Homo sapiens: one gene and its partner. The protein of the gene in region 2 interacts with the protein of the main gene of each other region in a pairwise test. Each region holds a gene or a part of one and is shown on either strand. Other genes may lie near its edges.

The links. The genes of interacting proteins can lie anywhere in the genome.
Region 1: the proteins of PALS1 (region 2) and LIN7C interact in binary tests that used the Homo sapiens proteins (3 or more experiments, as listed by UniProt).

The regions. Positions count from the first base shown.
Region 1 is NC_000011.10:27,493,763-27,496,769, forward strand, and holds the end of LIN7C (protein lin-7 homolog C), read right to left. Parts: 3' UTR 656-3,007; downstream 1-655. UniProt on the Homo sapiens protein: Plays a role in establishing and maintaining the asymmetric distribution of channels and receptors at the plasma membrane of polarized cells.
Region 2 is NC_000014.9:67,314,419-67,318,173, reverse strand, and holds part of PALS1 (protein PALS1), read right to left. Parts: intron 1,343-3,755; coding exon 1,271-1,342; intron 767-1,270; coding exon 695-766; intron 1-694. UniProt on the Homo sapiens protein: Plays a role in tight junction biogenesis and in the establishment of cell polarity in epithelial cells.

The DNA of each region.
Region 1 (3,007 bases), on a different chromosome or scaffold from region 2:
ACACTAAATGCTTTTTGTTGTTCCTCGGCTGTGTGGCACATTTCCACACTTTTTTAAAGTTAATGGTGGTGATGCCTTGGACTGTCTAACACCTAGTCCAGTAGTCTCCTGTCTCTATGCCTAGGTCATCACCTTAAAGGTTAATTTAACAAATCCTTACTTGGACTTATTTTCCAATGATTTTCATTAGAATATGGCTTCAATCCTCAAAGCTCCAATTTAAAAATTCCGAGTTTCTTTGATCAAAATATAAATTTGATAATTTCTTATGAATCTTATTCTTCTAAAGTTTTTAAGCATAAAGGTTGTTTTCTAAATACCAAAAATAAAAACTTGCTAATTTTAATTTTTTGACCAGAATTATTTCCTTTAGCTCATAAGGTTCTGAAGCTATTTTACATGAACAAAAGCAAACACAAACAGTATTTACTATGCCAGGCACCTTTTTAAGGGCCTTACAGAAAATGGCATGACACTTACAGGCATTCTTATTAACAAATGACAGGTGAGGGAACTAAGGCACAAAGAAATCAAGCAACCTGTCTAAGGTGACACACGGTAATGGTGGAACTGGGATTGAAACCAGAGTTGTTTGGCTTCAGAATCTGTGCTCTCAATCACGTCATACTGCCGCTCTTGAAATAACACAAGAAAATGTTTTCTTTAAATTTTATGAAAGACAAAGCAAAATATAGAAATTCAAAGTTTCATTTCAGCAGCCACCAGGAATTATGTTTTTTTATACATACCTTTCATAAACGTTATCTATTGTGTAGTTATATCAACTTTTTTCAAATCCAAAGAACGAGGACATAACTCATACAAATTTATTTTAAATAAGCCTTAAAATCAGAATTAAATTGATAAATGAAGTAATCTATTGAAAAATGTTATTTTACATCCATTCTGGGTATTACCACAAATTTTAAAAGTAGAAGCATAGCATTTGCCAGTTATTTTAAAAAACCGAGTCAATACAAATTAGTCTCAAAGTTCTTGAAAATTAATAAGTGATTTTTCTCACTACTTAACCATACCTGGAATAACCTTTGAAGAAACACTACTAGCAAACTTTAGACAACAATTATAAAACCAGATTGTTGGCAGAGGACACAACAAAATGTAAGTTAGAAAATTCATAAACATACATTTATTCAGGAAATACAATTACTAGAATCCTTGATATTTCAATGATCATTCCACATTATAAAATATTCACAAACATGTAGTTTTTTAAGTCTACACCAGGTCATGCTGACATTCTTTTTGGATAAGCCATAACCATTTCTTCTATTAAATGCTATAATATCCATTTTAATTGTAAACAAAGTACTTGAGCCAGACTACTTAAGTACTTGAGCAAAATAACTTAAAAAAATCTTAAGAGGAGGAGGACAATGATATTTTTTAAAAACATATTTGAGGCTGGGCATGGTGGCTCACGCCAGTAATTCCAGCACTTTGGGAGGCCGAGGCGGGCGAATCACGAGGTCAGGAGATCGAGATCATCCTGGCTAACACGGTGAAACCCCGTCTCTACTAAAAATACAAAAAAATTAGCCGGGAGAGGTGGCACACGCCTGTAGTCCTAGCTACTCGGGAGGCTGAGGCAGGAGAATTGCTTGAACTGCCTTGAGGTGGCGGAGGCTGAAGTGAGCCGAGATCACACCACTGCACGCCAGCCTGGGCAACAGAGCAAGACTCTGTCTCAAAAAAAAACAAAAACAAAAAACAAAAAAAAAATTTGAATCGTCAAATCCTAAAGAACTAGGCTGCTATTATCTAGTATTATACTAACAAATGAAGTGCCCACATTAAGACAGTACATAATTATTAACGACAATATTTCTCATCTGCAATTTTTAAACATGCTTTCTCAAATAACAAACACGTATTTTTGTAAGTTTTAAAGGCAAAGGGGGCAGAATGATGACAGACATAAAAAGCTCACATTTAAATTACTGGTAGATTTTATTAAAAAAAAGAAAAAAGAAAAAAAAAGATAAGACTGTAATTACTTCCCAAATAAGGAATGCCAAGTACCTTTTATTCCTAAAAGAAATTACTTGGCCAGGTGCAGTGGCTCACGCCTATAATCCTAATGCTTTGGGAGGCTGAGGTGGAAGCCAAGGAGTTTCAGGCTGCAGTGAGCTATGATCACACCACTGTGTTCCAGCCTGGGAGACAAAGCAAGATCCTGTCTCTTTTAAAACAAAAAACAAACAAACCAAAAAAAAAACAAAAAAAAAACCTAAGAAATGTAATTAATCATTAAGTAGCTGCAAATTGAACTGTTCTATTTTGATACTTCCTAAGAGTGTCCAGTGTAATCAGATCATTTTATAATGGGTTATTGACCCTAGGTGTCCTTTAGAACCACCTGGAAAGCTTTACAAAAAAAAAAAAAAGGGTGATTTTGATTTAGTTGTTATGGAATAGGACCCAGGTATCAATTTTTTAAAGCTCTGCCAGGCTAATATGTAGCTAAGATTGAGAATCACTAAGTCAACACATTTTGATATATCAAGAAAATAAATGGAAATGGGGGTGATAATTTATATTTGTAATTTACAAATCAAACATCTATCATACACTTACTATGTACCTAGTTTTATTCACGAATCATCCATTTCTAAGATAAAAATTCCCATCATTTCCTCACTGCACTAAACCACCACTGTACATCTTTGCCAATGAATGACTGTATTTTTCTATGGTCAAGATTTAAAATTCTGGGATACATTATGAAAACTGCATTAATGAAAACAACCTACTGCTATTCATGCTCAACAGTAGCAAGCTAAACTACTGTACTTGGCTCCTTTGAGCTACCCTTATTTTAAGAATTATAAATAGGTGTCAACCCACACAAAGAACAGATTGTGGATTACCGTAGGGAAAAAAATAGCTTACTCAACTTACTAAAAGTTTCAACACCAAAAAAGATTTAACTTGGCTGAAAGTTCTGAAACAGCTGAGACACAGAACCAGGAAGCTATAATTTATA
Region 2 (3,755 bases):
TTTGCTTTATTATTTGGGTTGCTTCTAATGTGAACCAAACAGAAGTAGCAAACTCAAATGCCCATAAAAACAAACTAAGGAGGTAATAAAATCAGTAAATCAGGTTGGGTTAATAAAACACTGGGAGTGGTAGAGACTGTTAAACTAGACACCAGGTGCTTGATATAAGAGCAACAGTCATCACTCAGGTCCAGCAGACTGTTGTCACCTAGGAATACTAGCCCAACATTATCAGAGCTTTTGATTTTAAGAGAAGCTACAACTTTCGAGCTTTTTAATCTTAGCAATCAATCAAAATAAAACTAAAATTCTCTTGTGTGTCTGACTTAGCCAGCAGGTAGTGGGTTCTCAGGAATGAGTTGCTTCTGTGACATGAGCTATTGTAGAGGACATAGTTTTTACTTCAAGTATGTTCTGTAAGAATTTGTTAGAAGTATAATTTTTGCAAAGAGTTTAAGTAGAAAAAAACTACAGGAAACTGTCAATTTAATACTACATATGCTAAATAGTACTTGAATTTTTGTATCAGTTTTCCCCAGAATTCAAAACACTGCCTTACTCACAGGATTCCAAAAGAAAATACTTTCTACTAAATGATTTTCTCAAGCACATATTTAACATTAAGGTGCAAAACAGGACTAGGTTTAGACTCCTTTCAGATATAATTCCACCTATCCCTGAGAGTAGAACTTACCATCATTTTTATTGGCATTATATAAAACCTTTTTCCTCTTCTTTTTATTCTTCTTTGCACACCACAGTTTTCCTGTTGAGCAATCATAAACATAACTATAAATGTGTTCCCGTGAACAAAACCACATAACTCAAATTGAAGAACTCTATTTATTCATTCATTTATTCTTTAAATTTTTTTGCAGAAACGAGATCTCCATATGTTGGCCACGCTTGTCTTGAACTCCTGGCCTCAAGTGATCCTCCCGCCTCAGTCTCCCAAAGTGCTGGGATTACAGGTGCAAACCACCACACCCAGCTTGTTTTTAATTTACTTTTATAAATACTTATTACACTGTTTGTATAAAGACTATTTTTCAGGAAAGCATTTACAATTTTCAATTAACTACACAGTATAGACAGATAATCTTTAATACTTAAATCTTATCCTTTCTTTACAGTTCTGAGATAATCAGTTTTGCCTCTTGTATCACTCTTTCCCTGAGTACTTCTTCACGGTTCTAATATGCAGATTCACACATGGCTCCAGATGAAGACCCAAGAAACCATTTACTTATGTCAAATACAAGTGTCTAACCTGATTTTTCTGGCTCCTTATCTTCTTCTATGGTTTGTTTCATGGCTTCCCTTTGCTGCTGAAAGCTTTTCCCTTAATAGCAGAAAGAAAAAGAAGGGTAAAATATTTAAGATAAAAGGATAAGAATTTTTTTTTTAATCAAGAAGGGAAAACACTAGACATATCTCTTCACTTATATTCCCTTCCAAATCCTTTTGCCAACACAGGAGTAATGTCAGCTATGATGTGTAAGCCTCCAAATTTTTAAAATATTAACTCTGCTCAATCAATCCCATATGTATTATTAGAATACATATCATCTACTAAAATATTTAAAAATTTAATAGTTCAACTTTTTAAAAGGTTTCATTGAGCATTTACTTTGTGGAAAAGTACTATCCTGGATCTTACAATGGTTCTAGGTCCTTTAGAATTATCTCAAATTAAGGATATCAATTCTAGGAATTAACTTTTCCAAAACAACATGTGCGCATTCATCACATATTCAATTCCATATTCAATTCCAAGAAACCATTCAGTATATTCCCTTGCATGCATTATTCTCAATTCCTCTTCTTTTGTGTATGTATATGTGTTAGCCATTTTTTATTTCCACCCTTAAGTTACCAATTATATAAATGGAAAACGTGCTTTTCCTTACAAAATTAATATTTTAATATAGGAGGCTTTCAAGGTTCCTGACCTTGAAAGAGGTTTTCTTTTCCGACTTCTACTTTAAATCAAATATGTCTTTTCCTATAGGATACAAGTGGCTTCACTTAGAAGATTCTGAATTACGTTGAGGTTCCACTTTTTTATTTTATTTTTAAATCTACTTTTTTTCAGTGTAAAGCCAGAGATTCTTAAAAATCAATAAGCAAATTCTACATAGGTGGGGATAATCTGTAGAACTTAGTGCATTTCGTAAGTGTACTAACAAAAAGATTAATACTGACTTCCATACACATAAGAAGCATTAAAGGAAGCCTGGTTATCTTTTGAGACGAAGTCTCGCTCTGTCACCCAGGCTGGAGTGCAGTGGCGCAATCTTGGCTCACCGCAACCTCCGCCTTCCAGGTTCAAGGGATTCGCATGCCTCAGCCTCCCGAGCAGCTGGGATTACAGGGGCCCGCCACCATGCCCAGCTAATGGTTGTATTTTTAGTAGAGGCTCGGTTTCACCATGTTGGCCAGGCTGGTCTTAAACTCCTAATCTCAGGTGATCCTCCTGCTTGGCCTCCCAAAGTGCCAGGATTAGGGGCATGAGCCACTGTGCACGGCCAAGACTGTATTCTTAGTACAAGTAACTATTACTAGAAGGAAAATTTTAAGAGTATTAAAATTTAAAGGGGTCGGGTGCAGTGGCTTATGCCTGTAATCCCAACACTTTGAGAGGCCAAGGTGGGCAGATCACGAGGTCAGGAGATCAAGACCATCCTGGCTAACACGGTGAAACCCCATCTCTACTAAAAATACAAAACATCAGCTGGGCGTGGTGGTGGGCACCTGTAGTCCCAGCTGCTCAGCAGACTGAGAGAGAAGAAGGGCATGAGCCCGGGAGGCGGAGCTTGCAGTGAGCTGAGATCATGCCACTGCACTCCAGCCTGGGAGACAGAGCGAGATTTTGTCTCAAAAAAAAAAAAAAAAAAAAAAAAAATTAAAAATAAGTAACCGATTTTTAAAAATCAAGAACAAAGTAATTTTAATCATTTACATATTAAAAATGTAAAACATTACAATGATGTACTTCTGTGGCACTTTTTGTAGTATGAACTATAGGCTATTCTGAAATAGAGGCAGAAATTAATGAGAGATGGAAATGATTTTCTTTCTTTTTCTGAGACTGCTCTGTTACACTGGTGTGATCAAAGCTCACTGCAGCCTCAACCTTCCAGCCTCATGCAATCCTTCCACCTCAGCCTCCTGAATAGCTGGGACTACAGGTACGCACCACCATGCCCAGCTAATTTTTAAATTTTTTGTAGAGACAAAGTCTCATTATGTCAGCTATGCCACTATGTGGCCCAGGCTAGTCTCAAACTCCTGGGCTCAAGCAATCCTCCCACCTCAGCCTCCCAAAGTGCTGGGATTACAGGTGTGAGCCACCAGGGCCAGCCTCATAATGACCTCTTAAAAAAATCTGTCTAATTCTGATGGAAAGCCATCGTCAAACTCTAAGGCAGATCTTTAGTCTTATAAAAAGACTTAGAAATGTCATCATTGGAATCTATATACTTTCAGAAAATCAATCTATCAACAAACACTAGTTCTAAACATTTATGGGCTAAAGTTCGGCATGGTAGGAAGACACCATACTGATATTTGGCACAAGCCTGAGGCAGAACCACAATGGCTACCCAACACTCCAAGATTCTAGAGAAATGTCCTGTAACTGTTACTCTGAAGAATCACGGGTTTTAGCATCATACTCTAAAATAAATGTAAGAAGTCCATTCCTCCTTCCTTAAAATATGACTGATATAGACAAAATCTGTTTCTAGCCTCTG